6 separate regions of the Homo sapiens genome follow, and regions 1, 3, 4, 5 and 6 are each reported to be linked to region 2. Evidence: microRNA targets listed by miRTarBase, many of them from high-throughput screens and not tested one by one. Region 2 holds a microRNA gene; each other region holds the end of a gene's coding sequence. Distances are from middle to middle.
Evidence for each region. Region 2 holds the annotated microRNA hsa-miR-4652-3p (GUUCUGUUAACCCAUCCCCUCA, at 2,761-2,782, opposite strand). A microRNA usually pairs through its seed, bases 2 to 8, with sites in the 3' UTR of a target mRNA and lowers its output. Matches are read on the target gene's strand: a 7mer-m8 pairs with bases 2 to 8, a 7mer-A1 pairs with bases 2 to 7 and ends in A, and an 8mer does both.

Region 1: the mRNA of TNRC6C is a reported target of hsa-miR-4652-3p. Seed matches in the 3' UTR shown: 7mer-A1 at 1,461-1,467, 7mer-m8 at 1,527-1,533 and 8mer at 2,025-2,032.
Region 3: the mRNA of NCAM2 is a reported target of hsa-miR-4652-3p. Seed matches in the 3' UTR shown: 7mer-m8 at 2,435-2,441 and 7mer-A1 at 4,474-4,480.
Region 4: miRTarBase lists SOX1 as a target of hsa-miR-4652-3p. Seed matches in the 3' UTR shown: 7mer-A1 at 1,797-1,803 and 7mer-A1 at 2,971-2,977.
Region 5: miRTarBase lists MIER1 as a target of hsa-miR-4652-3p. Seed matches in the 3' UTR shown: 7mer-A1 at 3,192-3,198.
Region 6: the mRNA of DNAJB6 is a reported target of hsa-miR-4652-3p. The part of its 3' UTR that is shown has no 7-base or 8-base seed match.

The regions. Positions count from the first base shown.
Region 1 is chr17:78,104,102-78,109,343 of GRCh38, forward strand. It overlaps TNRC6C (trinucleotide repeat containing adaptor 6C), which reads left to right. Exons shown (of 23, transcript NM_001142640.2): 23 at 384-4,721. The coding sequence ends at 744. It overlaps TMC6 (transmembrane channel like 6), which reads right to left. Exons shown (of 20, transcript NM_001127198.5): 20 at 3,296-5,242. Among named protein-coding and RNA genes, the nearest start is that of TMC6, 22 kb to the right of the region's middle.
Region 2 is chr7:93,714,517-93,719,758 of GRCh38, reverse strand. It overlaps MIR4652 (microRNA 4652), which reads right to left and starts at 2,831; the gene lies at 2,754-2,831.
Region 3 is chr21:21,537,308-21,542,549 of GRCh38, forward strand. NCAM2 (neural cell adhesion molecule 2) reads left to right here. Exons shown (of 18, transcript NM_004540.5): 18 at 539-5,242. The coding sequence ends at 650. Among named protein-coding and RNA genes, the nearest start is that of LINC00317, 200 kb to the right of the region's middle.
Region 4 is chr13:112,068,444-112,073,653 of GRCh38, forward strand. SOX1 (SRY-box transcription factor 1) reads left to right here. Exons shown (of 1, transcript NM_005986.3): 1 at 1-3,263. The coding sequence ends at 391. The region is part of intron 1 of SOX1-OT (SOX1 overlapping transcript); the gene reads left to right. Among named protein-coding and RNA genes, the nearest start is that of SOX1, 3.9 kb to the left of the region's middle. RefSeq lists an enhancer at 5,101-5,210.
Region 5 is chr1:66,983,831-66,989,072 of GRCh38, forward strand. It overlaps MIER1 (MIER1 transcriptional regulator), which reads left to right. Exons shown (of 14, transcript NM_001077700.3): 14 at 742-4,789. The coding sequence ends at 1,070. It also overlaps a transcript of SLC35D1 not described here. Among named protein-coding and RNA genes, the nearest start is that of MIER1, 61 kb to the left of the region's middle. RefSeq lists silencers at 706-755, 743-943.
Region 6 is chr7:157,415,255-157,420,496 of GRCh38, forward strand. It overlaps DNAJB6 (DnaJ heat shock protein family (Hsp40) member B6), which reads left to right. Exons shown (of 10, transcript NM_058246.4): 10 at 762-2,185. The coding sequence ends at 844. Among named protein-coding and RNA genes, the nearest start is that of DNAJB6, 81 kb to the left of the region's middle.

The sequences.
Region 1 (5,242 bases), not on the chromosome of region 2:
CCAACCCTTCACCCTAGTGAAAGGTTGCTTTTGATAGAAGTACGAGTAGACCTGATCAGTAACATCACTTGAGACGTTGGAACCTAGAAATTAGTCATTCCTGTTTTTAGCCCAGGATGCAAATGACACTGACCCTAAACGAGCCCACATTTAATGATCTGTTCACGCACTTGAAGATGTACTCTGTGTACCAGTACGATGTTGCCACTAGAAGTCTGAACTGAGCAAAACATTCACAGTCTGGGTTTGGAAATAGCAGTGGCAAAACAGAAGCCACAGGATGGCTTCCATGTGGGGCCGTTCCCAATACAGAGAAAGCCAGTGCCACGAACTCAGCAGGACTTGGGGTGGCCCTGTTCACGTGCCCCATCTTGCTGTTGCAGGTGCGTCCTGGGAAACACTACCATCCTGGCCGAGTTCGCTGGTGAAGAAGAAGTGAATCGCTTCTTAGCCCAAGGCCAGGCGCTGCCACCCACTTCCAGCTGGCAGTCCAGCAGCGCGTCCAGCCAGCCGCGGCTCAGCGCAGCGGGCAGCTCCCATGGCCTGGTACGCAGCGACGCTGGCCACTGGAACGCCCCGTGCCTGGGTGGCAAGGGGAGCAGTGAGCTGCTGTGGGGCGGGGTGCCCCAGTACTCCAGCAGCCTGTGGGGCCCGCCCAGCGCCGACGACAGCAGGGTGATAGGCAGCCCCACGCCGCTAACCACCCTGCTGCCTGGGGACCTGCTCAGCGGGGAGTCCCTGTAGGCTCTGCCATCATCAGCACCAGGAGAGCCGACCCCTCCCGGGACCCCTCCCGGCTGGGCGGCCCCACAGACCCGCTGGAACCCAGCAGCGGCCGCCCTTTTGAGTACCTCTGTCCAGGACTGAAGACGAACCTTGGCCGCAGTCCTTGCGAACTGTTCGCAAAACAGTGCGGGCTGCGGTGGGTCAGCGTCACATGCTAATGACAGGATGTTCCTCGTAGCTTTTTATTTTGTGCGTCTTATGTTTGTATAGTGTGTTGTCATTTTGATTTTTTTTTTTTTTTTAAGTATAAAAGCTGCTTAGAATAGTTCTATCATGAAGGGCACTTTTCAGATTGTGGGCTGGAAAGGGTTATTTTATCTGTGGGGGAGGGAGGGAGACGTGAAGCCTATTTAAAATGAGCCTGTGACGATTATGCACATGACCAGAGGCGGCCGGTAATCAGGGCAGAGTCTGGTGTGGACCGCCGGGCGCAGAGCGGCTCCGCGGCGGGAGCTGAGCGGAAGGCGCGGGCTGCGATCTGCTCTCTGTTCCCCTGGATCCGCCTATGCACATTACCCTTGTTTCATTACTTTTTCATGTCATTTTTTTATCCCAAAAAATATTTTTTAAAAGTTAAAAAAAGACATATCAAACATGCAAATACTTGAATCCAGCAGGCCAATAGTGAAATGTGAACACTTTCTAATTCTACACTTCCAGGTTGACATCAGTACACAGAAACAGGCTCTAGGAAAAATTTCTAAGTTCATAGCCTACGTGTGTGTATGTGTGCGTGTTGAAACAGAAGTGTGTGTGTGTGTGCATGTGTGGCGCGTGCTCCTGCACGGCGTGCAGTTTTCTGTGTTTGTGTGTTTGAAAGCGTGTGAGGATTTAACTGTGGGTTTTCCCTTGTATTCAGTATACGCTTTTTTTTTGGCGCATTGGTCAAACGGTTGTTATTATTAGCTTCTAACTTTGCACTGAGTGTCCTCGCCCTTCCTTTAGCTAATCCTATACATTACAGAGAATTCCTAGGACAGGGCTGGCGACAATTCATGTGTAAATGTTTACTCAAGGACTCTGTGACTGCGTTTAAAAAGTACAGTGTATATCTCTGGAGAAATAACATGTATACCTACCTTTAGCAGCTTTTTATTGTGGACTAATGCAAGAAAATTATTACCAGAGTATTGCACCATTTTTCCATTTGGAATATAAAGTTAAAGAGAAAAAAAAAAAAAACTGTTGTTGAACTGTGGCCATAGATACTTGTAAAGAATGGATGGTTCCGTGGAAGGAACAGAAACAAGCACTTGGGCGTGGGTTGTGACTGCTTTTGGGGGAGCCTGGGGTTTGGGCTCCCACCTGTTTACAGACCTTTTTTTCTCCTTCAGACTTTAAAATTTTAAAAATTTAAAAAGGAATTAAAAAAAAAAAAAGACTTCCGTCGTAAAGAAACCTATTTTCAGAATGCAGATGCGTTCCTTCAGAGCTCTGGGACGGGACAGTGTTGTTCCCTCGGCCATCGTCGTGGACTCTGTCGATTGCTTTCGCCCCTTCGTCAAGGTGACAGGCGTTGTGGCCACTGTCTTGCACATGCCGGACGCGCTCTCAGGAAAGCCAGGGCTCCCGAGGGCAGCTCCACACCATTTCATGTATTTTTAAACCCAACTCCTAGCACTGAAGATGTTATTTAAAAAAAAAAAAAACAAAACAAAACAAAAAAATGAAAAAAAAGAAAAAGAGGAAAAAAAAACACAAAGAAGAAAAATACCTAATCTCTAATGTGTAGCAGTTACATATTTACCAAATAATGGACTCAAAAGAAATAGATGTTTGAAGAGTGCTTTATATATTAAAAATTGCTTTATGTTTTAAAAATGATCAATGTTTTGATTGTTTTGCAAGGAAGAAAGACAATGGAATAACATACCTTCAAGTATGTTTTAAAAAATATATATATGAACATTGTGCTCCCTGCCTGCTTGATCAGGAAACTTGTGCATTACATTTTTTTAATTAGCTTTTTAATGGTTTTATCAAAACAAAAAAAATACAAAAAAAAAAAAAAAAGTCCTGCAAGACTGCAGATCCACAAAAGCTGGTTTTATAGAGGATCATGAACTATGCACAAACTGGGTTCAAGACTTTTTTTCTCAAGTTTAGTAGGATATTTAGAAAAACCAACCTTCCTCAGAGTGACTGCATCTCATTGCCATTACATGCGTTCTATATATTCGATGGACATACACCTGCGTATGTATATCCAATATGTGTGCGTGTGAGCATGCGTGTGCGTATGTGCGTCCGACATACCACTTCCCGTGCTGCCGGCGAGCATTGAGTTGTAGAAAAACTGTTGTTTTAAAATTGGGGATGGAAGTCAAGAATATGTTTGTTTGTTTTTGGGTTTTGTTGGGTTTGAGGGGTTTTTTGTTTGTTTGTTTTTTGTTTTTTTTACCTTTTATTTTGAACTTAATATGTCTGTAACTCTGAGATTAAACAACAAGTTCGTGGCTCTTAATGTTTTCCTCATAGAATGTGACTGTTGAAGAACATGCATCGAAAGTTGCTTTCGAAAGTACAACGCTTTATTGAATCTTAATAAATTGCAATTTTTTTCTTGGCTGTTCAAAGTAATGTGTTTTTCATTTTTCAAAAGACACTATGGATGTCTACTTTGCACGCTGCGATTGGGAGAGCTGTCCCGCTGCATGCGTTCCCTCTGTAATTTCCTCAGAGCTCACATACGTACCTCTCTCACGAGTGAACTCAGATTTTCCATTGTTTTGCTTTATTCTATCATTTGCTTTGTGGTTTTGCTGTAAATATTGAAATCTTAATCATCATCGAGAGGCACAGCCAAGCTTTCCAGCTCTCCACCCCCGTGGCCCATCCAAGTCTGTTCATCTGGTAACTTCTGTTGTCTGGGACGGCAGCAAGAAGATGCCGGGGCTTGCCTGGAGTCCTGGCAGAGGAGTGCCACTCACTTTTGCCTAGGGTCCAGTTGGGGCTTAAAAAATATTTGGAGAGAAGAGTAATGAGGATTTTTTGTGTTTCCTAGACATTTTATGCATCTATTTTTGTAAAATCACCTTCGCTAACTTTCACCAAGCACTTTGAGCACAGTGGAACTTCAGAAGCACAACCAGCCTAACCCCAGAATCTCAGGTGGCACAGCTAGAAATTGAGTCCCTTCCTAGGACACTGGCCGTGGCCTTCAGGGTGACCAGTCAGTGCCACCGGGTTGGCATTGGTGTTACAGACAGGCCTCTGAAGACAAACCGAGCACCCCAGCGGCCCCTCAAACTAAGCAAGGATCTTTTTTCTGTCTGCGCTCCCTGGGGCAAGGTCAAAGGTGGACCCGCCCACTGTGGGTCAATTCCTTCGAAAAGATGGGACCCGCACCCCCGCCACAGGCTGGCCCCCCCCCACCCATGGGGAAGGTGGTGTGCTGCTGGCTCTGACCATACTCTTTTGGAAATTGAGAAGGAAAGCATTGAGTGGGACCTAATCCGGAGAAGAAATTAAAGACCAGAAAAAGAAGGAAGCTGGGAATGAAACTCAAAATGCACTTGAACCTGGAAGCGGCAACCCTCAGCTCTGCGCGGCCGAGCCTCAGCAAGAGTTCGTTTTGTGCCTGAGTTACTACTACAGGGGCAAACTGTACCCGTGCCTGTGCGCTGGGAGAACAAGGTCAGCGCCCAAGGGTGTGCAAAGGATGTGGCAGGCTTCATGGAGGAGGTGGCATTTGCCCTGGGCCTGGGAGACCAGGTTGGATTTTGACAGACTGGGAACTCGGGGGACAGGAGGGCAGCACAGTGTAAGCTAAAGCCCTGTGTAGGGACCCCACGCAAAGACCTCGTGGGCCTGGGTGTCCAGGGCACCATTTCCACCCATGGGTGAAAAAGAGGCTTGAGGAAGACAACAGGTTCTTCACCTGCATCTGTGGATATATATTTTTTTAAGTTTATTAAATTTTTTTTTAAATGGCAGTTTCAGACCTGCCCTTTGTGGTTTGTGTTTTTGTTTGTTAATACAGGGTCTCTGTCTCCCACGCTGGAGTGCAGTGATGTAATCTCGGCTCACTGCAACCTTGACCTCAAGGTTAAGCTCCAGCGATCTTCCGACCTCAGCCTCCCAAGTAGCTGGGACCACAGGCATGCATGCGCCACCCCACCCAGCTCATTTCATTTTTTATTTTTGTAGAGATAGGGTCTCACCATGTTGCCCAGGCTGATCTCGAACTGCTGGGAATACAGGCATGAGCCAGGTGCCCAGCCTTTGTTGTTGTTGTTGTTGCTGCTATTTTGGCAACATCACGGCAGAACGGTAAAGGCAGAAAGCACAGTGCCCAGCAGCTAGCAGTGTGGCGTGCCAAGAAGGCTGTTCCAATGGGGGAGAAGCCAGCAGACACAGAGGCATCATGGCGAGCCCCGACTGAGTGTTCAGTGAAGAGGGAAAACAGAGACAGTGGGGCATCCCGAGAAGATCCTCTGCAGGAGTGCGGTGTCTA
Region 2 (5,242 bases):
GTCATGTGATGCCCACACAGTTTTATGGTCTTCTTATCATTGTTACTGGTCTGCAGTTGGAGATGAGTCAGTGGATAGGAGTGGGAAAAGACTTGTCTCTCTCACACATAGAACCCTGAGGAAGGAGTAATCAGATTCATGTAAAAAATGAAGAGAGGAAAAGGAGAAGGAGTGTGCACTGTTAATTTTGGAACCCCAATTGGGATAACTCATCAATGCTCATCATCCACTAGCACGAAGCCTCATGGCTTTAACCATCATATATCCATGTGGTAGTTCCTTTGCCTGCCAGGATACGTACTCCAACCCCACACTCTATTACTTTCTCCCCATATCTAGTCATCCTTATTGCCTCACTCCTCTTAACTCTTCCATTCACCAAAATTTCCCCCACCTCCTCTCCTTTTCTAAGCTAGACTTGCTTCCTAGCCTCATTTTTAGAATTCTCCTTTCTCAAACGCCTGTTGCTGAGAAGGGAGAAGATAATCTTTAGTTTTGGAGGAAGGAGAGGTGGAAAAAGTCACTGAAATGTTGCAGTCTCCTGGTGGCAGATTATTATTTTCTTTCTTTCCTTCTGATAGTTACTTAAATTTTTTTTTAAATGTGTATTTTTAAGTCCTTTATTATGCTCGAAGAGTTTTTAAATTTTGTTATGTTTTTGTTCTAGTGAGGAAATATATTATATTGTAAAGTTAATTTTAATTATATTATCCCAATTTAGGAAATAATTTGTGAGTTTGTTTTCCTTGCTTGCTTGCTTACGGTAATTTGTGGGAAATATGTCATTCTATCACATCGATTAATTAAATATCCCTGTACATTTGTACATAGTAAAAAAAATTACTGAATAAAGCAAATATTGAAATGTCACACCCATTGGAAACATAGCACTACTATGTCATAATGATAAATCTTTTCCATACCTTCACTGGATGATTCAATTCGATTATTTAAGACAATAATTCAACATCAGAAAATTAAAGAAAGAACCAAAGTGATGACAGTAAATGCTTGGTAATGATTAGTGACTCCTTGCCAGCACACAGATTTCATCACCCGCGTAATTCTTATTTAGCATGGACCCTCTTCCAAGTTATTAGGATTCCTCAGTGATATTCAAATTGAGTAACAAAAGAAATTGGCTCAGTTTATCCTCTGTTTTTATCACTGCAAGCCTAGACATAGTGATTAATCCAGAAATAGCAATTATTTCCTATTTTCCCTAAAAATAACACTTAGAAGCTGGGCAACTCAGCTCTGAGACTCAGATTGTGCAGTTTGACATCTGATGATTATAATGTCTGCTGACCTCAAACTGTATTGTATGAATTACATAATAACCATGCATACAAAAGAAAGCAGAAATCATGAGGAATATTATAGTATAAAATCATTAATGTTATTTTCTTAATTTCTGCAGAAGTATCTATGAACCTTAACTCTGCTTATAATATTTTTGCCATAAAGTAGAATTTCTTTTCATTCCATACAATACCTCAATCTTTTCCTTTATAGCTTTCTTGTTATCACTCATAGGAAGTTATTTTGCTGAAAAACTATGTAACATTCATGAATAATTTATCTTAATTTTTTTCAGTCTCTAATATTTAATTCAGCTATAATTTTGTTATAAGGTATGTAACTTAGTTATCAAAAATATTTTTCCCTGGCAAATAATTCCTCAGTTGTCTTTTGAAATGGCAACGCCAAAATTGCTATCACCATTTTACAGATGAGTGACAGTTACTCACAGGGCTAAAGTGATAGACAGTGGTGTGGGCACCAGCTCAAACCTGCTCTCAAGAGGCAATTGCAGGTAGCATTTCTGAACTCCATATTCAACAAATTGGATATGATGGAAATACACCATGAAAATCAGCAAATACTACAAGCTTTCAACTTTCCTCCCTCCCTTCCTCCCTCTCTCCATCTTTCCCTCACTCCCTTCCTCTCTCTCCCTCTCTCTCTATTCCCCCCTCCCTTCCTCCCTCCCTCCTTCCCTTCTTTTCCTTCCTTCCATCCTTCCTTCCTCCTTTTCTTTCTCTTTCTTTCTCTCTCTCCCCATTTCTCCCCATTTCTTCCTTCTTTTTCTTTCTCTTTCTTTTGGTTCCCTCCCTCCCTTTCTTTGTTCCTTCCTTCTTTCATTCCTCTCTCTCCTCATTCCCTTCCTCCCTTATTCCCTGTTCTCCTCCTCTCCTTCCCTCCTTTTCCTAGGTTTAAGGGCTTTGCAAGTTCTCTTTAGTGCACCTGGGTTGACCTGATTTTGTTGTTCTCTACTATGTGGTTTGGGATGTGGTTTCAAAACTCATACCACCGCAACTTATTCATTCATAAAGATCTCTATTTCATTTGAGTAATCATTATGACTTATTGTAGCACTGGAGGACTGAGGAGTGCTTTGGGGCCAGAGGTTGGGTAATACTTAAGAGGAGGTGTTGTCAGCTGTTTGTTAGAAGAGAGACTTGCTGTCTGAAACTCAGTGAGTTGTTGCCTACAGGTCAGTAGCAAGGCCAGGAACATGACCTTGGATTTAAGATTTTCTGTCTTTTCAATGGAAACAATATGCTGACCATTTCTTTCACTTCGTAATCCTTCATCACATAGTCTCCCTTCAGAAGGTCTTCTCAACCACCACTGACATTGATTGCAAAGATTTTTAAAATTCTCATCACTTTTTCTCTCTGGTCTGACACTAGGGGACTGCTTGTTTGGCCTTACTCAGCCTAGTTGAGCTTATATTGAGGTTTATACTCTATTAGATGAGGGGATGGGTTAACAGAACAAAATAGTTCTGGTTAGTTAGTTCTATTAACCAGTCCCCTCGTCCAATAGAGTCAAACGATTCTGAATCACTGTTGGCCATTATCACTCTCATCACTACTCCAGTCTGACCAACTTTTGCATAGTTATATATATAGTATGTAACTTAGTTATCTAAAGTATTATATATATAATATTATATATATGCATATATAGATAGATAGATAGAGAGAGAGAGAGAGAGTCTTTCTCAGTTGTCCAGGAGTACAGTGGTGTGATCATGGCTCACTGAGGCTTGGATGTCCAGGCTCAAGCGATCCTCCCACCTCAGCCTCCTTCCTGGGTAGCTGGGATTACAGATGTGTGCCATCACACCTAGCTAATTTTTAGTAAAGACAGTCTATGTTGCCCAGGTTGGTCATCAAGTTCTGAGCTCAAGGGATATTCCCACCTTGATCTCCCAAATGCTATGATTACAACAGGCCTGAGCCACTGCACCTGGCCGCAAAGCAATCTGTAATTGTTACAGCTTACCCTGTGAGGTGTAAAGTTGAATTGGAGGTGGGGAAGAAGCATCTCTGACAATACCCCACAGCTTTGTGTAATCCCACAGCTTCTTGCACAAGAGCTTGCATATAGCTGGAGTTCAAGAAATATTTGTGGATTGGATGGATGTACAAATGAATGACAGTAAAGAGGCTACATCTGACAAGGGAGGAGGAAGCTGGGCAATGAGGATCCAGGGGACACCAGTAGGGAGGTACGGATAAATCTTTGAGATGGGAGAAAGGAGAGGCTGAAAGCGATAAGGATATAGGAAGCCCGATGCAGGCAGAGGACAGAATCCAAAGAGTTGCACACAATGCAGGTGTGTAAATGTGGACATTTAACAGGGATGGCATATTTAAAGTGGTATATTTTGAGATTTTCACTTGTTTTCTTTTCACTACCAACAAAGCTGAGTGTAATGATTAATTCTTGAAGATGTCTAAGCCAGGAAAGGGAAAAGAAAGTATTCATAACTGTCAAACAATGAATAATGGACATTTATTTGACAGTTCTTGAACATTAAAATTGAGCTAAGTTCTACATTATAATATGAAGTAGTTATAATAGGCATATAATATGTTTCCAAACATTATATGCCATTACTATGATGTGAAAATAATACCAAAGATCAGTACTTTCAACACCTGAATCACTTTGTGGTTGCAGTGCGGCAATTCTATGTACTGATTGTCTCTGAGTTTTTAACAGTGTAAGATGGTATAAAAGTCATCCATGATATCTGTAGTATTATCCAACTGTGTGTCTCACCAGCTGTGTAACTTCAGGTTAGTCCTCACTACCTCTCTGGGTTTAAATTTCCTAATCTTAAAATGAGGTCCAAGCTGGAAAATCCATCAAGTTCCTTTCTGGTCTAGCATTCATTGATTCTAGGATGTAAGATTATGCCGCGTAAATATGGACAAGACTTTCTTTTTCATTCCCCTCTTTCCATGAAGACAGGCTCCTTCTCTCTTCATAAACCATGGACTTATCCTAGGTCAAGGCTTCCTGGTCCACAGGAGACCCCTGGCGGCCACCCTGGCGAATTCTCTTGATAGATGTTACCTCCCGCAGTTCCGAAATCTTTAGAGGGTTTTTGATGCCCTAGAAAGCTTCCTATCTTTGAACTCTTAACACCTACAATTGGGTTGATACTACTTTGAGTAATCTTTTTTCACATATGCACAAACCTTTCCTTTTCTCTTACAACCCTTACCCCAAGAAAATATTTTTTCTTTTCCCTTTACTCTTTAATTTCCCTTCCTGTTTTATTTCTGAAATAAAATTGGGTGATTCTTCTTTCATTATTTAAATGATTTCATTTCTAAAAAATGTAATAACTTCTTTTCTGATTACGCAAGGAGAAGCATGCTTGTTGTGGAAAATTTGATAAGTAATAAGAAAATAAATTAGACACAATACAGGCATACCTCAGAGGTATTAGTGGGTTGGTTCCAGACAAATGCAACAAAGTGAATATTGCAATAAAGCAAGTCTCATGAGGTTTTTGGTTTCCAAAGTGCATAAAAAGGTTATATTTACACTATACTTTAGTCTATTAAGTGTGAAATAGCATTATGTCTAAAAAATATATACTTTAATTTAAAAATACTTTGCTGCTAAAAAAATGCTGATGATCATCTAAGCCTTCTGTGACTCATAATCTTTTGGCTGGTGGAGGGTCTTGCCTCAATGTTGATGGCTGCGGACTGATCAGGCTGGTGATTGCTGAAGGTTCTGATGGCTATGGAAATTTCTTAAAATAAGACAGCAATGAAGTTTGCTACATCAACTGATGCATCCTTTCATGAAAGATTTCTTTATGGCATGTGATATTGTTTGATAGCATTTTACCCACAGTAGAACTTCTTTCAAACTGGAGTCAAACTTCTCAAACCCTGCTGCTGCTTTATCAACTAAGTTTGCATAATAT
Region 3 (5,242 bases), not on the chromosome of region 2:
AAGTGCTAGGATTACAAGCATGAGCCACCACGCCCAGCCTGGTTTCTGAATTTTATGTAACAGAATATGGCAACAATTATTAATTGTTTTCACTGGAGAAAACGTAGTGCTAATAAATCATATCATTGACATTTAAAAATATTTTGGCATTTTACCTTCCATAACATGTAATTATATTTTGGAGATCAACAACTAGTTACCAAATCTAAGCCACCCTATAGTGAGCAATTTGGTGCATCTATATCTACAAATATATTGTTTCATTCATCATTCTGCATTACATTTTTAAAAGGCCAAGTAATTGTTTTTACTCTCTTTTAGATCTTTTTAAATCTATTTTATATTATGTTAATAAATTTAATTTTTCCTTTCTAATTATTGTAGCACGTTTTCTCTATAAAATAGTAACTTATTTAGCATATATAAAATGTTAGCATATTATTGGAGCATATTTTCCTTACAAAACAGTAACTTAAAGGTTAAGGTACGTCTCCTTAAATACCTCAGAAAATGAAGCTTATTATTTTTTATCTTCCAGAAAATTGCCTTTAAAGGAAGAAGATGGGAAAGAAGCTCTAAATCCAGAAACTATAGAAATTAAAGTTTCTAACGACATCATTCAATCAAAAGAAGACGACAGCAAAGCATAACAACAATATTACAGGGGCTTGAACAACACTACGAAGAGTATTTGGATTGCGTGACCCTATGACCAAAACTATTCCATTGACCTTAATTTCTTGGGAAACTTCTAGCTTGGAATAGCTTGTACACATATACATATGATCAAATACTCCTGCCCATGATCCATTCCCTTTTGTTATTGTTGTTGTTGTTGCTGTTGTTGTTAATTTTGTTAAGAATTTCAATATCAAGACTGACTGGCACCAACACTTTGGTATTCAATTTGATTCTATGACTGAAGTACTGGAATTTATTATGTGGCTAAAGTGCTCTATTTATTAAGAACTATATTTAATACCACCAACAAATATAGGGGTTAAGGAAAAAAAACGTGAGCTACATGTGTAAGAAGGCCCTGCATGTGTATGAGTCCTATTCTGGGCAAATAGATTCTTAAAGTGGCTTTCAACTTCAAGATGAAGGAGCTTAATAATGGTTACTCATTTTATCAGGGGAATTTCAGGGAACGTAGGCGTCAAAGAGCCAGTTATCTTTAGCAGATATTAAAAATTGAAAACTTTGGAGAACTCATTTCAAGTTATGATTCAGTGCATTTTCAACATTGATTTTTGATAGACTGAAGTGCCAGATCAAAATTGTTACCCATTTGAAAGAATATTAGTTGTATATAAAATTAGATTAGAAAGACTTTCTAAATCTCTATCTCTTTATATATGTCCTATTCATTCACAATGGATTATACAAAAAAAAGTGTATTGCAAGTGAAATAATATTGATTTCTGCCCTCAGCTTCAAATAAAGTAAATTGAAATGGGAACAATATCAATATGGTGTCTTGATATATTTATAAATATGTGATTATCATTTATTTTTAAAATAATTTATCAAAAAACAAGTCTTTAGTGTTCAAATACTTCAAATCATATCCTCAGATATATTTTTAGCCCATGGTTTTATATAATCTTTAAGAACTAATTTTACCACTGTTATAGGTTCACCATTAAATATAATTGGCTAATAAAAATTTTAAGGTTGACTAAATTAAGAAGAAATTATTTAACATTTTAATGTGCCATAAAAGAGTAAATGATAAATAATTAAATGCCACTATGTGTTCTATTCCGGATGTTCTAGCTAGAAGTCATTTTAAGATTTTGATAAACAACTTTGGTTGAAGAAATTCCTTAAGTATTCAACACAAACTTTCTAATATCTTTTGTTAGGGTTATACCAGAATAAAATGCTTCTTTACTTCCAAGCTATGCAAGCTCCCAGAGGTAATAGAGTGACACATGATTTAACTTATATGTAAGGTTTAAAAAAGTATTTATCATTATAAACATACATACCATTTGGGAGCAGGTTTATTAACCTTGAGAGCCAAAGGTTTCCTTAGGCCCTGTAACATTCAGAACCTTTGGTGTTTCAGGTGGTATTATAGCTCAAATAGTGACAGGACAGGGAATGCGTTCCAAAGGAATATTGGAGCAATTTTAACATTGCAGAAACCTGCTCTGGGTGTGTCTCTCTGTAGAGATAACCTGATGATTATTAAATGTAAAATTAAGGCAACTCATGAATATTTTTATTTACAAAGTGCTTGAAACTCAGCCAAGGAGAGAAAACTAAGTACTTTTATATAATTCATCACTTTTCTGGCTACAGCAGGACAGAATATGACCATCTTCGTTTGAAGGCACCAAATCGTCGCAGTGTCTTTGCCATAAGTTGCAGGGTTAAATGCGGGAATCTCTCCTTGCGTTCCTGTCTGGCGTATTCTGAAGAAAAGAACAGAATTCTTGTGCCTACCTAAGAATTTGAGTAGTGTCTAAACAAACAAAGCAGTTAGGTCATTTTAACTGACTTGATTATCCAACTGGTCTTTGACAGATTTGACTGTTCATATTTAGTTTATGTTTGTCTGATCATCCAGTTTGCTTTATTTTGCTGTGTTTTATTTTGTTGTTTGTTTTGTTTTGTACCAGTGTACTAAAACTAGTCAAAATACTTGAATTAGTTTGTTTGTGCAAAGTGTACAAGCTTAGTAAAGTGTCCATGAAGCAATAGCCATGAATGCTAATTATTTCTAAATAGGGCCACATGGTTTTAAACTAATGATGGTGAAAGAAATACGATGACTGAGAAAGTCATTTCGCATGTTTACTATTGTTATATTCGTGCTTTACTTCAAGAGTGCAGAAATCATAATAAATAACAAACTATTTTTGTGTTTTCTCAATGTGACATTTCTGTTTCTCTCATTTATTCGGATTTTCCTTGTAAAGAAATTGACATATATTTCATATATATATACACATATATATATATACACATATATATACATATATATATATGATGTTAAATTTCCTGCCACTCATGTGGAGTAATGATCTGAAATTAACAGATAATCTGAAGCTAATTATATTCAGACTATTTCAAGTGCACTGTTTCAGTTGCCCGGGTGGTCCTTACCTCTTGTCCTTGAAATCCATGCCATGCTGAAGCAAGGCAATACTGTGATAAAGTATTTTTTTTAATATTTCAATGGAATGCTCCAAATGATTTATAAAAATTTCAAAATAAAAGATGGCTTGTAGTAAATTGTAAAATATGAGTAGAACTGAAATAACCTGTTTCATTCTTATTCTAGATTAAACAAACATATACATATAACCATATAAATGTTATTTTTATTGTCTGAGAGTACTCTTAAATATTAGTATAAAGTGTCAAAAGAATTGACTGAATATAAGTACTGTTAAAATAATTTGAACCCTATGATATTTTAAACCAAGAGGCAAAGATATCACCTAAAACTTGGTATTTCTTGATAGGTTAGGTGCAATTAGGCAGTGACAATCTGTATTCAACAACATATAAGAGGAAAGAGTAATATCAGAATTTTGACACAAATTAATGTGTCAACATATTTTACAATGATTGTCAAAGGAATTTAAGAATTGTATTTTTAAAGATTTATTTATTATTTTTGTGGGCTAAGACATTGCCATTCTATTGATACTAATGTCTAACATTAATGTTTCTTGTTTTCTTTTATTTTTAATATTAATAACTATAAAAGCATTTTTCAAAGGCTATTTGATCCAGCACACTTCATATGGATCTTAGTCTTTGAATTAAATATTTATATAAATAGATTTTATTAATCAAATTATTTATTTGTGTGCCAACAATTAATTGTAACTTTATGATCATATCTTTGTTTATGCTTCTTATTTTAAATAATTAAGATGTATCTGTGCCTTTTAATTAGCATGACAGTCTGCTTTATTAAAAGAAAAAAACTACAATTAACATCATTACTAGTATATTTTGCTTAGATTTGAGATACTCAAATGATGCTGTCTTATTTACAGTCAGTAATTAAGTTCAATTCAAACTATTTTACCTTGAATATAAAATCTAAATATAATAAACTATACTGTATAATTTACTTTAATTCATGTCAAAACAATTCTTTTTATACACACACATGAAATATTCTTAATCTGTTCTGTATTGTTTTTCTAAACAATAAATACATTCTAGATATTGTTGAAATTAAATTTTGCCAGTTGTAAGACAAAGACAACAGATAACTTTTGAAAATCAAGCAAATTACTATGGTGTTTCTTGGGTCTTCATTATTCCATTTATATATATTTTTTATTTCGAATAATAAATCAACCTTTATTTTTGGCAATAAGATTATCACTGACGAAAATATGTACAGTTCAAGAAGTAGAAATAATATTTTCCATTAGTTAATTTAGGAAATATTGGAATAGCATATTATAATTATTTATGAGGTTCCCAATGTTGTTTTTCACAGAAAATAAGGTAAACATTCAACTTAAATCCCCCATGAAGTTTTTTCATGCTCATACTCATAATCATTATCACATAATGTGCTTATTCAACAAACTTTGTATCTGGATATATTTTTAACAATAAGTTTGTTAGCATTATTTATTTATCTTTAGAGAGAAAATATTTGCATCTGTTTATTTACCCTTTGAAGCATTAATACTTAGTCACTCACATTGAAATTGCATATGGATGTATCAACATAGGCTAAAATTAAATTATGGATGTCGCAGAAATGAAATACTTCATCTTAGAAGGTAAAATTTTCAAGAAAGTATTTTATTCATGGACTTAATAATGTCTTAAGATGAAACAATTTTATGTCCAAATGAGAAATTTATAAAAAGACCCACATATAGTAGTTGCTGAACAAACATAATTTTCTTCCAGCTCCCATCCTTCCTTTTTGAAAAATTGAATTTACCCATGTAGATGCAGCTATTTACAATTATACAAGAATGCGAATAGATTAATTATATCTTCTCATATAAAGGCAAAGAATTTTATATTATATATAATGCTAAATATTTATTTGATAACACAATATTCTTAGAAAAATAGTTTATTACTTTAGGATTTTATCTATAACATAAATATATTATTTGTTATTACCTCTTTAAATTTTCATTTTATACAATTTTTGAGATTCTGGCCACACAACATTCAGAATTATTGCTCATGTAAATTTAAATATTGCTACTTATTTTTTTTCTTTTCTGAAATGAAAACA
Region 4 (5,210 bases), not on the chromosome of region 2:
GCAGGGCTACATGAGCGCGTCGCCCTCGGGCTACGGCGGCCTCCCCTACGGCGCCGCGGCCGCCGCCGCCGCCGCTGCGGGCGGCGCGCACCAGAACTCGGCCGTGGCGGCGGCGGCGGCGGCGGCGGCCGCGTCGTCGGGCGCCCTGGGCGCGCTGGGCTCTCTGGTGAAGTCGGAGCCCAGCGGCAGCCCGCCCGCCCCAGCGCACTCGCGGGCGCCGTGCCCCGGGGACCTGCGCGAGATGATCAGCATGTACTTGCCCGCCGGCGAGGGGGGCGACCCGGCGGCGGCAGCAGCGGCCGCGGCGCAGAGCCGGCTGCACTCGCTGCCGCAGCACTACCAGGGCGCGGGCGCGGGCGTGAACGGCACGGTGCCCCTGACGCACATCTAGCGCCTTCGGGACGCCGGGGACTCTGCGGCGGCGACCCACGAGCTCGCGGCCCGCGCCCGGCTCCCGCCCCGCCCCGGCGCGGCGTGGCTTTTGTACAGACGTTCCCACATTCTTGTCAAAAGGAAAATACTGGAGACGAACGCCGGGTGACGCGTGTCCCCCACTCACCTTCCCCGGAGACCCTGGCGACCGCCGGGCGCTGACACCAGACTTGGGTTTTAGACTGAACTTCGGTGTTTTCTTGAGACTTTTTGTACAGTATTTATCACCTACGGAGGAAGCGGAAAGCGTTTTCTTTGCTCGAGGGGACAAAAAAGTCAAAACGAGGCGAGAGGCGAAGCCCACTTTTGTATACCGGCCGGCGCGCTCACTTTCCTCCGCGTTGCTTCCGGACGGCGCCGACCGCCGGAGCCCAAGTGACGCGGAGCTCGTCGCATTTGTTATAAATGTAGTAAGGCAGGTCCAAGCACTTACAAGTTTTTTGTAGTTGTTACCGCTCTTTTGGGTTGGTTTGTTAATTTATACAAAGAGATTACCACCACCACCCCCTCCTTCAGACGGCGGAGTTATATTCTGGGTTTTGTAAAACTTTATGTATCTGAGCATTTCCATTTTTTTTTTTGGGTTTTGTATTATTTCTTGTAAATGCATTGTGAAAAATTTTATTTTCGGCGTTGCAATGCGGGGAGGAGAAGTCAGATTATGTACATAGTTTTCTAAAAAGCCTTTCTTCTAAAAACGAAAAAAGACCCCCCACCCAAAATGTTTCGAGTCAACAAATTTAAGAGACAGAGCCCATTTTCTCCATAAATTTGTAACATGCTATTTTTATGTGCATGTTTTATGAGTTCAAAATGCAATGAGGAAATCTGACAGGGAAATTATCTGTATGAACTAAAAGTAAGGGAACCCCGGGGAATGGGAGGACAGGATTTTTCAAGGAACCTTTTTCAATGAAAGAGAAGGAAGTTAAAACCTATAGGTTATTTTGTAGAGCTGAGTGTTAATACGGGCCGAGAAATAAAAGTATCTTCTGCTCCGGCTGTTTCACTGCGGACGGCTGGGGCTGCTGCGCGTTACCTTGCTGCAAGCGGGGCGCCTTCCACCTGGCTGGGGGTCTGCGCCACAGTTTGGTCCAGAGGAGGGAGGAGGAAGGGAAGACCCCAGTGGTGGGACCCTGGACCAGGCCATGGATGAAGGACAAAGACCAGGGCAGGTCACGGGTTTCCCAATTCCCCAGCAATTAAGATTTCGAGCAGAATTTATCTAAATGTGTTTCAAGGAAACACAATCGCTGAACCAAAACGTACTGCAGCCGAGCCCCCTCCGTCCATCCTCTGCCCCTCCCCCTGGCTTCTTTCTCTTGGGAAAACGGGCAAAATAATTGTGCTGGATTCTCACACACACAGAAATATCGACCATCACCCTCCCCCGCGTGAACTGGGATGCAAGTTGCTAACCGATGTGAACGCAAAATGCCTTGTTCATTATTCCTGACGAGATCTTGAGGTTGTTTGATGCTTTAAATTTTTTAATTATATTATTTTCTAGGTGTTTATTGGTACATTGCAGTTTTTTTTTTGAAATTTAAAAATTTCTGTAAAACTTTGTCTTCAAGTAATCTGACAGCATTAAATATTGCATTTAAAAATTATACTGTAGCAAATACATTTAAAAATTAATCACAACGTTAAGATGAAATTATATTTTTGGAAAAAAAAAACACTTGAAGCCCAGATGGAAATACGTTTATTTCAGCAGCCTTAGGTTTCCCCTCGCTTTCTCAACACCCTTCCTTGTCCTGGAGTATGGACTGTCCGTCCAAAAGTGAGCCTATGCTATAAGTTTAATGAGAACCGAATTCAGCCTGCATTCGAGAATAGCTTTAAGTATAATGCTGATCTGACAATTGACGTGTAATTTGGGAAGTCATTTTGATAATTTTGCTTAAACCACTCATTCGTTAAAGTGATTACAAAAAAGTTCAAGAATGATGTCCACTGCTTTCTAACAAGATAATAAACCCCCCCCCTCTTTTCTTTTTCTTTATTTTTATTTCTTTTAGCTATTTGATCCTTTCTGAAGCAGTTGTTTCTGGAAGAGTCTGTGCGCCCATGGATGGCTGAGCACCACTACGACTTAGTCCGGGATAAGGGCCTCCCCAGTCCTCTCCGGGAGATGATTTGGGAAATTTTATAATGCTTGTTCTGTTAACTCACCGGGACCTTGAGGGTCCAATGGGACCTTGAGGGTTTTCTCTGAAATATACAAACTTAAAGGACTCTCTCTGAGGTTCTTTGACTGACGTCCACTCTCAGTCTGGCCCCTGTGCTCCCCTGTGTGTACCCTGGAGTTTCTGTGTCCAATTGTTGGCATCTAGGTCTTGGCTCAAGATTAGGATGTGGGCCCCACTTTAGAGGCACAGACTATGAAAAGCTGAGTTAGTGCGCCCGGGACGCCAGGCAAGCAGCTTTTACAGTTTGGCATCTTATTGCAGGTGCTTCGTGCACAGTCAGCTGAAATAGCCAATGCCAGGTGCTCCAACCACCTTATTTCCTTGTTTTGTTGATTAGAACAACACAGAAAAAAGCAAATATAAATTTTTAATGACTCCATTTAAAAATATCACAGGGTGGGGGCAAGGAAATTAGCTGAGATTCATCTCAGGATTGAGATTCTATCCCCCCTTCCCCGCCCCCAGCAGTGTCGCTCCAATTCAAATTAGTGGAGAAAAGATTACAGTAGGCCCTGAGCCGACTGTGAATTCGGTGCTTGGCCAAGGTAACACTCATCGTATTCACGGAGTGAAATACTATATGATGATAGTTATTATATTATATGACGACTTCATTCACTTCCCAAATCACAGGGTGGTGCTTCTGTCGCTTAGTCCAATTATGTTTGCAACCCGTGTAGGGAAGGCGGATAGGAGTCTTTGAGGCCTAGTGCAAAGTTTGCATCAGTTTCTGCGGGGGCGACAGTGTGACTTCGTAAATCTGCCATTGCGCTCGGGCCCTGCCCTCCAAACTGAGGGTAGGAGGGTTTACTTGAGGGTTTTTTTGCTTTGTTTTGTTCTGTTTTTGCCTTGTTTTGTTTTTCAACTCACCCGCCCCTTTTGTTGTTGAGATTTTGACGTCCCCTTCCCCGGAGAAACCCACCCGTAACGTACTAGATGGATTAGTTTTAAAGAAGACTCGGGCACAGCGTGATCTCCAGATGCGCGTCGGGAGCGTGACTGATAGGTCTATTAAAATCACGCGTGTGGGAGAACGGCACTCATGCTCCCGCGTTTCATTCCCCCGGCAAAGACTGGGCGCCGCAGATTTCTGTCTCCGGAAAATTCCAGTTAATTCAAGAAACCCATCCCCGGACGTGTGCCCGCCCCCCCCCGAAGGCTCGCTTCAGGCCAGCCCGGACTCCAGCGCCCCCTCGACCCCGTCGGGCTCCGGCCGACTCCCGCCCCCTCCCCACCCACGCTCGGCCTGGGCCCGGGGGCAGCGGCTCCAGAGGCGTCGGCGGCAGAATTTAACCCCCGGTCTGAGTCCTTGGAAACTTCAAGTGAAAAGCAGACTTGGCCTTGGCGCGGCTCTCTTTCCAGCGTGACTATCTGGCGAGACTGAAAGGCCAGGCCAGATGGGGAAAAGTGAGCGGGGTGCGGGCCCCCAGTATCCGGCGGGGTGGGGCGGCGTCAGGACGGAGCGAGGGCCGGCGGGGGGGCTCGCGTGGAGGCCCAGGCCGGGAGGTGGGGACGCAGGGACCCCTCACCCAGTCCTCTGCTCCCGCCCGAGCCAGGCCTCGGGATCACCTCCCCTTGCCTGAGGGCGAGCTCTCCTCCTCCCTCTTCCTCCCCGCCTCCCCCGTTCTTCCCTCCCTCTCTCCCTCCTCCCTCCCCGGCCCTTCCTCTCCAGCTGCGCGCCCGCCGGGACCACGCTCCTCCCGCCCCCGGGAGCCGAGCGGCGTCTGCGGCTGGTCCGGACGTGTCCCCTCCGGGCGGGGGTGGCCGGGCCTCCTCGGGGCCTCGGGCCTCCCGGGCGCACCCCCCTGCCTGCGCCTCTCCAAGTCGCCCTTTCTCCGGCTCTGCCCGCGGCTGAGCCCCGCACACCGCGCCGCTGTCCTTGGGGTCCCGGCACACGGCGTTCCCTCCCCGCCCCCGCCATCCACTCCCACCGCCTCTCCAGTCCCTGTGCCGTCTCCACCGCCCTCTGACTCCCGCACCGAGCTGCGTCTCCGCCGCCGGCCTCTCTCAGCGCGGCCCGGCCTCCTCTTTGTCTTTGAAGCTCCCCCGCCGAGGCCCGCGCGCGGCTCCCCTCTCCGTCCCTCTCCGGCCCTTGGGCGCCCAGTCGGAGGTCGGGGCGGGATGGGGCACGAGTCTCGGGGCGGCCCGCGCTCCCCCTACTAGTCCCCTCATTGCCTCGGCCCCGTCCCCGCAGCCTCGGGGCGGGAGGGCGCAGGGGTCCCCGGGCGCCCTGGGAGCCCATCTCCCTCAGGTCCGCGCCGGTGTCAGCCGCCGGCGGGGGGCGGGTGGAGATTAAGATGAGTGCTGCGAGGGACGGGGCCGAGGGTTTTGTGTAGAAGGAGAGCAGGATTAGTGGAGAGAAAGTGCTGACCCGGGGTCAGCCGCAAGTCAAACCCTTTTACACTCAGCCGGCGGAACGAGCACGGCTCGGGCCGGACGGCAACAAGTGGGCGCGAAGGGAGGGGGAGGGGAGGCCGGGTACCGGCCGGGTCCGGCGTGAGAGAGGGGAGGGGGAGGGGACGCGGCCACAGCGCCCCAGGGCCTCAGCGTCATCGGGGACGGGCGCCGAGGGGAGCGCGCACC
Region 5 (5,242 bases), not on the chromosome of region 2:
GATTCTGCTGCCTCAGCCTTCCGAGTAGCTGGGAGACGGTGCACGCCACCACTCCTGGCTAATTTTTGTATTTTTAGTAGAGACAAGTTTTCACCCTATTGGCCAGGCTGGTCTTGAACTCCTGACCTCATGATACACCCGCCTTGGCCTCCCAAAGTGCTGGGAATACAGGCGTGAGCCACTGCACCCAGCCTTGTGTGATCTTTTAAAGTACAGTTCCCATAGATTTACATTAAGAATAAAAAAGTCATGACATCTTGCTTTTATATGGCAGTTTACTCAAGCTTTTTAAAGAAAGAGCATTCATCTTGCTTTTACGTGGTTTTAGAATGTTGAAAACCTTTTGTTAAATCTGAGTAATTTACTGCATTTTCCATTAATTCAGCTTAGTTAGACTGCTGGATCCAGTGCTTGTTTGCTGTCACATATACCTAATATGCTTTTAACATATGCCAAATTCTGTTCTTAGTTCTTTACATTTATTAACTTATTTAATTTTCACAACAACCCTGTGAGGAATATCTATTATGATCTTCATTGTATATATGTAATGAAATGGAGATACAGAAAGAGTAAATAATTTGCCTAAGGCGACATAGCTTATAAGTAATAGAGCAAGAATTTAGACTATGTATTTGATACCTTGCTTCCTTGATAACAATAACTACAAGCTGTTTTATAATAGTTTGCAAATTTAACTTTTTTCTAATTGTGGTTTCATTTATATTTCTTTCAACTTAGGAGTGTCATCTAATGGACCAGGTGAAATATTAAACAAAGAGGAAGTAAAAGTTGAAGGGTTACACATTAATGGACCAACAGGTGGAAATAAGAAACCACTTCATGCAGATATGGATACTAATGGTTATGAAACAGATAACCTTACCACTGACCCAAAACTTGCCCATATGACTGCAAGAAATGAAAATGATTTTGATGAAAAAAGTGAGAGACCTGCCAAAAGGCGAAGGGTAAACAGCAATGGAAAAGAAAGTCCAGGTTCTTCTGAATTTTTCCAAGAAGCAGTCTCACATGGGAAATTTGAAGAACTTGAAAACACAGATGACTAAATTTTAGACCTATTTTACTTTCTTTGGAGTAAATTCTGGTGTGACTAAAATTTTCAGGGTTGATGGGTTACCTTAAAAAGTTGATTTCCTTGAAGCAGTTTGAAAATTTGAATTGAGTCTTAACTTTAGGAAATGAGGTTTCATAATTCTGCCTTTTGCAGATTTTTTTACTTTAAAGCTGTCAGACTCTTTTAAGGGTATTTTAAAAATTAGTAAATTTGAATGAACTAAAGATATATCTCTACCTTCTCATTTGAATATCTTTAGTTCATTCAGATTTACTAATTTTGGTAAATCTGAATGAACTAAAGATGTATCTGTACCTTCTCATTTGATGTATTAATCATAAAATTTCACTACAAGGTAATTTTTGCTTAGTTTGATGGATGAATGGGAAACTCAAGTCCAAATTTCTGCTTAATACCAATTTCTCTGAGTTTCTTGAAATGTCTTTAAAACAGACATTTTTCTCACCAAACAGTTTGAGTATCTTTATTAAGGAAACCCTTACGAATCCTGAAAATTATGCTAGCATGATTTTTTTATATATAGAAGTTTAAAAATAAACCAGGTCAGGTTTGTATATGTAAAATTGTTGACATCAATGATGTCTTTCCATATTCTTATCTGGGCTTAAGAAATACATTCTGTATTTTTCCAGATTCTTTGTAGCCTTTGAAAGATTTTTACAGTACATATGTCTTGACTGAGCTGTCCTTTCTTAATACAAAAGCGTGTATAATTTTCTTAACTTGTACAGTTGGTAAACTTTTATGAGAGGAATTGTTATTCTGAGTCTGTCAGCTTTCATTTTATTTTGCTAAGGTTTTTCTAATGAATTTTTAAGTGTTTGTGTAGTAATTAAGTCATATTTCTTATCCAGGTGGTTAAAGCATTCATAAAGGATTATAAAATTTTTTTTTTTTTTTTTTTTTTTAAATTTCTACTTAAGGGCAAGTAATTTGAGAATTCTGAAATTAAGCATGATGCTTAGATTGCAGTTTGTTTTGCATTTGCTATAATTTTCAAAATTATTTTTGAAGCAAGACAAAAGTTTAATGTCAGCTTAAGTGCTTAAATATATCATGCTGACCAGAATCCTGTTATTTTTATATGCATCATAAAATTTCCCATTTCTGCATTAAATAAACAGAGGAGGGGGGTCAAGTGATACTTAGATATTGGCACACACAAGGAACAACTGTTGGCAGGCAGTATCGATTTTATGAAGAGAAAGTGAAGTTTGAAAACTTTTCAAACTTTTCTAGTTACAATCCAATTTTTCAGATTTGATAATGCTTTTCCAAAGTGAAAATAAGATACACAATAATCATTGCTCTGTGTGATTACAGATAGGATTATCCATCTGCATAGCCTTGTAAAAGTGCCATTTTATTTTTAGTGCTAAATTCTTGTTAAATAATGTAGTTTTATATAGCTGATAGACCAACCTATATCCAAACTTTTATAAAATATTAATTATTCTTGTTTTTCTCACACAGGCATACTCCAAATGCTTCTTCCAGTTCATTTTTCAGCCATCAGTTCAAGAGCCAATGCCTTTTTAAAATAAAGCTTCTGTGGTCTTGTTTTTAATGGCTCAACTGTCTGATGTAATTGAGTGAAGGTTTGCACTGAGAAATTAGCATTCAGGCCTTACCCCCATGAAGTATTACTGTTAACATATGTTCGGACTGCTTCCCTTCACCAATGTGAACAACTTTTTTTCCCAAACAGTGTTAAAAGCCACTTTGCAACACTTGACTTCATCTTAATGTACATTCACTGTTGTTACATACATATCTAAGTAAATCAAAGTTTTGGGTGGAAGTGTTGAGAAGTATGAGTTTTTTGTTGTTTTTGTTTTACTTAAAACTTTTAATTTATCCAGAATGGCAGTAGCTTTAGCAAGCAGATGGTCACAATCTGTTTTCTAAATCATTTTTTATTAAATGAATCCAAAGTATCCTAGCTCTTTGTCAAAGATGGTCTGTAGAAATGTTTTTAAAGATTAGGGATGCTGTACTTTTTGAATTGTTGCAGTGTTGGAGATGCCATTTTCACCTTTTTAAAAAGATGCATTTTATTTGCAGGTTTGTGAAGTTCTTGCAAACTCTTACTACAGAAATGTTTTAAATACATTCTCAGGCATGTTTGCAAAAATATGGCACATGTATACATTTTAGGAAATGTTACTTTTGTTAATCTTTAAAAAATACACCTAATGAAAGACATTCCACTATTATGCGTAATGCTCAGCTTTTTGTAAAGAAATATTTAATTGTATTTTGTGTTTATACAGGTATTTCACACAATAATTTGTTCTTAATGCAGCCACTATAACTTGATAAGTCATTGCACTATTTAAAAAGTTTTAGTAATATCATGAATTTAATTTGCTTAAGATTTAGTACATTTCAGAACTTTTGAACTTTTGACAAATTGCATTGGAAAAAGAAGTCTGTTAATAGTGATTTAGTCTCCCCGCCTCATTCCCACCCCCAACAAAGCACTATCATTTTCATTTGGAATGGGTATTTTCTGTTTCATGATGTATTTTCAAATAGAGTTCAGGATCTGCAATTCAGTTCAACACAAGTTTGTTGAGCTTTAAAATGTATTTGAAGTAATATTTAAATAGGCATTTAAAATTTCAAATTAGATGTTAAATTTATGCATAGTAATTTTGCACTGTAAAATAATTCCCTTCTCCCATTCCTTGTCTGCCATTCTGAATATGCTTATTAAAATATTTTTTTAAACATATTTGCCTACATAATACTGTGTGAATATTTTCATTAGATTAATTCACTAAGATTTTATTAGAGATTGTTTGAATGATGCATGTTATTGACAAGGCAAATATATATATATACACAGTCTGTTTCTTCTATTCCTAGACATATTGCACTACTTTTTCAGTGGTTCTTGGTCCCCTTTACCACATCTTGGGTGATGTATTTTTGTCTTCTTCCCCTTTGCCACAAGAGATCCTTTCAGTCCCTAGACCTCCATTCACTCTGTTTCTCTTCTGCTGGATTATATAATTTAAAAATAATGTGTTCCCGTATTTTGTAGTGGAGTTCATATCACATTATGTTTTGCAAAATAAAACTTGTTTTGTCACAATATTTTCTTTGCTATCGATGGATAATTAGGAGTGGGCACTTGGAATAACTGAGGGCTGGTGAATATAATAGGCAATATTTACATGGGGTGTGTAACTAAATACCAAATCAGATAGTAAGGTTTTCCCAACTATAATCCATATTCATGAAAAATGCCAGTGTGGAAAACCATGTAACATACAGAAGAACAGGAGTTTCCAAATTTTAACCTTTTATTCTAAAAATGACTCTCTTCTCTCAAAATGACTTTTTCTGTATCACATAATTCTACTGATACAACTTTTTACCGTAAAAATTAACTCTCTTCTTTAATATCAAGTTCATCCTTTGCAGAATCTTAAAGGGTTTTCCACACATCCATCCACCCACTTACAGACTGATTTCATGTATCTGAATATCTGATTAACCTTTCTTTTCTAATACCAGTTTTCCATAAACTCTTGTCATGTACCCTTAGTATTGTGCTGATCTTTTGCCAACTATACGGACGTGGAGTTTTTCCTTTTCAGAATATGATTATTTTCAATTTGTCTTTAGTTAGTATAAAGAATTATAGAATGTATAATGTAATTAAAATGTCATTTTGCTTGCTCTTGAGTAAGAAGTAATTTGAACACACTTTTAAAGGCTACTTATTCTGTGAAGAATATTGAAGAATTGCCATGTAAACGAGATGAGATGGATTCTAATTGTCCAAATTGATGGTGACAGTTTCACATTTAAATGTCAATGATGACAAGCTTTCATTATGTTTCCATATACTCTAATATCCAGCAAATATTTCGGCCTATACTTGTACCAGGTACTATGCTTGCTTGGCTTGTGGCTTCAGAGATGCGGCATGCCCTGTTCTTCAAGAAGGCAGCAAAGTGTTAATGGTAGAAAAGTAAAGTGTATTCTGAGTACAGAGACAGCAAAAAGAGGAATAGGCACGATCTCAAGAAAATGAGTTTACCTTCCTCTTTGCCATGTAAGTCTAGCTAAATATTTTTCTTTTGTCAAACTTCGTATTTGCTGGAAATTAACCAACATGAAATGCATGAT
Region 6 (5,242 bases), 64 Mb from region 2:
ATCCAGAGGTGTTTATTTCTGGCACGTTGGATCAGACGTTCAGAGGGTGGGCGTCTTTCTCCATGCACTTCAGCTGGATCAGTCAGTGTCAGCCATTGACTTTAGCAACAGGGAAATGAAAGACTTTCCTCAATAAGAAATGGGACTTTCTCACGCTGGATGGCACAGAGCTGGCAAACATGAGGCCAGTCCACACCAAGGCTTTGCCTGCAGAAAGGCTGCACTGTGGCCAGCGGGGGAAGCGGAGGAGACACCTGTGGACACCCTCCCCACAGGTGGGCACACCTTTGCGCAGGCCCAGTGTGCGTTCTGAAGGAGAGCCCAGGGTGGGGTTCCGGGACTGAGGTGCAGCCGTGTCCAGGGTGGGCTTCTAGCTCTGCCGCTGGGCGGAACTGGGGTAGGTCCCAGGGTGGGGTTCCAGGACTGAGGTGCAGCCGTGCCCAGGGTGGGCTTCTAGCTCTGCCGCTGGGCAGAACTGGGGTAGTCCCAGGGTGGGCTTTTAGCTCTGCCGCTGGGCGGAACTCGGGTAGGTGGGAGTCCTCACTTCTCTGCAGGGTGGTGAAGCTCTCTGGGTAGTGTGAGCAGTTCTCAACGTGCACCTTGGAAAGCGCCCGTTTTGAGGTTTAGCTGTGGCCAAGATAGATGACTTCATTTTGTTGCTTTTTGTTCTTAACATGGGGAGATATTTAGAAAACATGTTTGGCTCTTGCTGGGGAAGCAGTGCTGTTCCGTACAGTGTTTTACAAGCCGTGTTTCCTTAGGATTGAAAGAAGGTGGCAAGAGGAAGAAGCAGAAGCAGAGAGAGGAGTCGAAGAAGAAGAAGTCGACCAAAGGCAATCACTAGACCGGACTTGAGGCACGCGGTGCACCCCCAGACGCTGGCGCTCCACCGTGCTCGGCATGCGGTCGTGCACACGCGCTAGGTAGCAGCGTCGGTCAGGACTGTCTCGAGGCCACACTCGCTCGGCAGGATTATGCGATCACGGATCAGTCAGAGCAGGGTCAGGAGACGGGGCTGACGGCACGGGTGGCGGGGACAGACGTTTGGGACTTGGCCGCGACTCTCTGCTTCTCTCCAGCTCTCAATCTGCTGCATTTTCCTCTAGTGCTTCCGGATCCTCTTCATTCTTTTCGGCTACTCAACCACTCCGCATGCTGCTGGAATATTTCTGGCTTTAGAAGTACAGGAGGGCGCAGATGGCTAACTGAGTAACATTCATGAAATGAGGCTTTCTGTGGCGGCGTAGTGTTTGGAATTAGAAGGTAATTCAGTAGAGTGTAACTTAGAGAATATTGCAAGTGACACATTGAATCCTGCCCGTCAGGGCACCTTTTCCTCAGAGCAATCCGGCCACACGAATAGAAGGCTGTCGTGAATCACATCAGATGTAAAATCATTCCTTCTGTTTACTCTTTTAATTTTCATCCTTTGCAGGTAGTGCAAATTCAACTTCAAATATGGTGTAGGTTTTGCTAGATTCCATATTTTTTTCTTGGATTTTTGCTAATTATTTTTAGCAAAAAATTTTTGCTCAGTGGCACTCTCCCTAGTGTCCATGGGTTAGGGCCATGCTGGGGAAAACGGGCCGGTATTTACACACGCGCAAAACACCCAGAGACGGCACAAGGAGGTTGAACTCATGTTTCAGTTCGCGAACATTGACTCCTTACGAAAGTCACTTCATTCTAACTAGATGCGCCCACTTCCGGTCATTATTTCGTTTGCATGATGTATTGCTTCTTCACGTTTTGTTTTTATTGAGCACGGAGTAGAATTCCAGGGCTGCCTTGACTTCTTCCCTGCATGCTCCCTCCCAGTGACTTTCCTTCCCTTTCACATGAGGATCTGCCGTTCATGTTGCTTTCTCCTTTGTCCTCTTGGACTTGAGGGCATTGTGAAAAGCTTTGCTGTGATTTAAAAATGCCAGCAATTTTAATCTAGCAGTGTTGAAGCTGGGAATTTTTTGGCGCAATCCATGTAGCAGTGACCCAGGCTTGGGAGCCAGAAACAAGTGTGACCTGGGATTTTATTTAACACAACTGTTGCCAAAGAGTTGGCTTTGTTTATTTGGTTTTGGCGGGGAGAGGAGTGGTATTTGATGCTTTCTGTGGACAATGTAACCCTAAACACATCATGTATTTTAAATGCCACCTACATAAATAAAACATAAGCATATTGAATACAGCTCGCCTGCTGTCCTTTGTAAGCGCCAGTAAGTTGCACCGTTAAGACTGACTAGAAATAAAAGCAATTCTTCAACATTACGATTACAAAGGATGAAAGTGGTGTTTTGCAGGCAGAAGCCTTGCTTCCGAAATGCGTCACTGTAAGGCGAAAACATGACTTTAAAGCTAACACCCCCGGCTGGGCAAAGTGGCTCACGCCTGTAATCCCAGCACTGTGGGAGGCCAAGGTGGGCAGATCACCTGAGATCAGGAGTTCAAGACTAGCCTGGCCAACATGGTGAAACCCCATCTCTACTAAAAATACAAAAAATTAGCCGGGTGTGGTGGCACACGCCTACAATCCCAGCTATTCGGGAGGCTGAGGCACGAGAATTTCTTGAACGAGGGAGGCGGAGCTTGCAGTGAGCCAAGATCGCACCACTGCACTCTAGCCGGGAGACAGAACGAGACTCCGTCTCAAAAAAAAAAGGCCGGGCACGGTGGCTCACGCCTGTAATCCCAGCACTTTGGGAGGCCGAGGCGGGTGGATCACGAGGTCAGGAGATCCAGACCATCCTGGCTAACACGGTGAAACCCCGTCTCTACTAAAAAATACAAAAAATTAGCCGGGCGTGGTGGCGGGTGCCTGTAGTCCCAGCTCCTTGGGAGGCTGAGGCAGGAGAATGGCGTGAACCCGGGAGGCAGAGCTTTCAATGAGTCCAGATTGCGTCACGGCACTCTAGAGAGAGCGAGACTCTATCTCAAAACAACAACAACAACAAAAAAGTAACACCCCAACGCACAGATGAGGTGGAAACTCCCGCAGCCTTCACAGGAGGCATTGAGGGTCCCGAGAGGAAAACCTCGTCGACTCACCCTGGCTCTGCTGGCGACCAAGACTGGGCCAGACACGCGCTCAGTGCTGACATCCTGGCGTCCGGCCTTCCTGGTGACAGGGGAAGGCGGTGCAGTAAGTCGCCTTGCGGGCCGGGGTCGGGGGTGTTTTTAAAACAAGATTAGTCCTTCTCAACTGCTCAGATCCCAGAATCTGCTGCTGAGATTGTGGCGAGGGAGGCAGGTGGTTCGACAGGTTTAGAGGTGACTGTTGTGCCCTCAACCCTGCCCACTTGACCCTCAGGCCGTCCCAGGAGCGTGGCCGGGCTGCCTCAGCAGGGGCACAGCTAGGGAGCGTGGACAGAGCCGCGAGCGCCTTCCAGACAAGCCAGGCCACACACAAGACAGGCTCTTGGCAAAGGGGCCAGAGCCCCGTCTTCACACGGCCTGGCTACCGAGTCAGCTCATGTCACAGGTGGGTCCTCCCTTCGCTGAGAGGGAGAGACCCCGACCCCAGGAGGAGAAGGGAGCTGGTGTCCATGGGGCCCGGCAGGTGCATGGCCAGCAGGTAGGCATCTGCTTCTCAGGTGAGGAGGGGTATTGGGGTCTACCCGACCCCTGCGCCCAGCGCCCCATCCCCCTAGGGCGGGTCCAGGAGCTCTGTGCTGCAGATAGAGCCCGCGGCTGCTTATGCCAGCGTCTGCTGAGGGGGTGGATGCTGCAGATAGAGCCCGCGGCTGCTTATGCCAGCGTCTGCTGAGGGGGTGGAGAGGGAGCCCGGCCCCTGGGTGTGCTCGGCAGCTGCTGAGATGATGGCAAGGGGGAGCGCGGCACCTGTCGTCGTCACCTTTGTGACGTCCCAAGCACTGGGGGGCCCTGCGGGGGGTGGGGAAGGCAGTGAGGTGCTGGTGGGTGGGAGGCAGGGGGGCTGTGGACGGTGTGGCAGGGACTGCAGTTGTGGGACTGGGGTGGGGAGTCCTGGGGGTGTCAGGACCACAGTGGGGCTTCCTGGCCACCCCACTGCCAATCCCAGGGCCACCCTGTACGCCATTCACTTTTGTCAGGGGCATAAAGGGCTGCAGAACCCACTTTCTGTAAGTAAATACATTTAAACATCCTGAAACGTTCACACCCTAACCCTAACCTGGGGGTCCCACGTGCCTTCCCTCATGTGGGTTGCACAGCTGGAGACAGAACCAGGACGTGGCGCCGTCACCAGGGAGAGCTCTCTGCTCTTTTGTTCATAGGCCTGGAAAAGTGGGACCATGACGTGAATAACCACACCTGTGTTTAACACATTTTGTTTTGTTTTTGTTTGTTTGTTTTTTTGCAATGGAGTCTCACTCCGTCACCTAGGCGGGAGAGCCGTGGCACCGTTATCACACCTCAGAAAATTAGTAATTCCCCCATGCCAGCTACTTCTCAGTCCATTTTCAGAAACTATTTACTTTTATTCTTTTCTTTTTTGAGGCAGAGTCTCACTTTGGCACCCAGGCTGGAGTGCAGTGGTTCAATCATAGCACACTGTACCTTGATCTCCTGGGCTCAAGCGATCCTCCCACCTCAGCCTCCCAACATGCTGGGGCTACAGCTGTACCACCATGCCTGGCTAATTTTTAAATTTTTTATAGAGACAGGATTTCACCATATCATCCAGGCTGGTCTCAAACTCCTGGGCTCAAGCAATCTGCCTGCCTCAGCCTCCCAAAGTATTGAGATTACAGGCGTGAGCCACTGTGCCTGGCCCGTAATTTTTTTGTTTGTTTTTTTTTTTTTTTTTTTTGCAGGAGACTGGAGTTTTATTGTTACTCAAATCAGTCTCCCCGGGCTGTGATGTTTTTAAACTAGACTTCAGTCAAGACTACACATTGCATTTAGTCGTCACGTGTATTAGGTCTCTGTACGCTTTTACCTTTTATTATGAAAAATCTTAATGTCCAAATTGTGTGCTTGGAACAGGTAACTGTAGAAATGAATCCCTCTCCCTGGCCCAGAGGTGCACAGCGCCCGCCCCTCTTGTGTATCTGCACCCCCTCCCCATCATGTTTTTTTGTTTTTGTTTTTGTTTTGAGACAGAGTCTTGCTCTGTGGCCCAGGCTGGAGTGCAGTGGTGTGATTCGGCTGACTGCAACTTCTGCCTCCTGGGTTCAAGCGATTCTCCTGCCTCAGCCTCCGGAGTAGTGGGGACTACAGGCGCCCGCCACCGTGCCCGGCTAATTTTTGTATCTTTAGTAGAGACGGG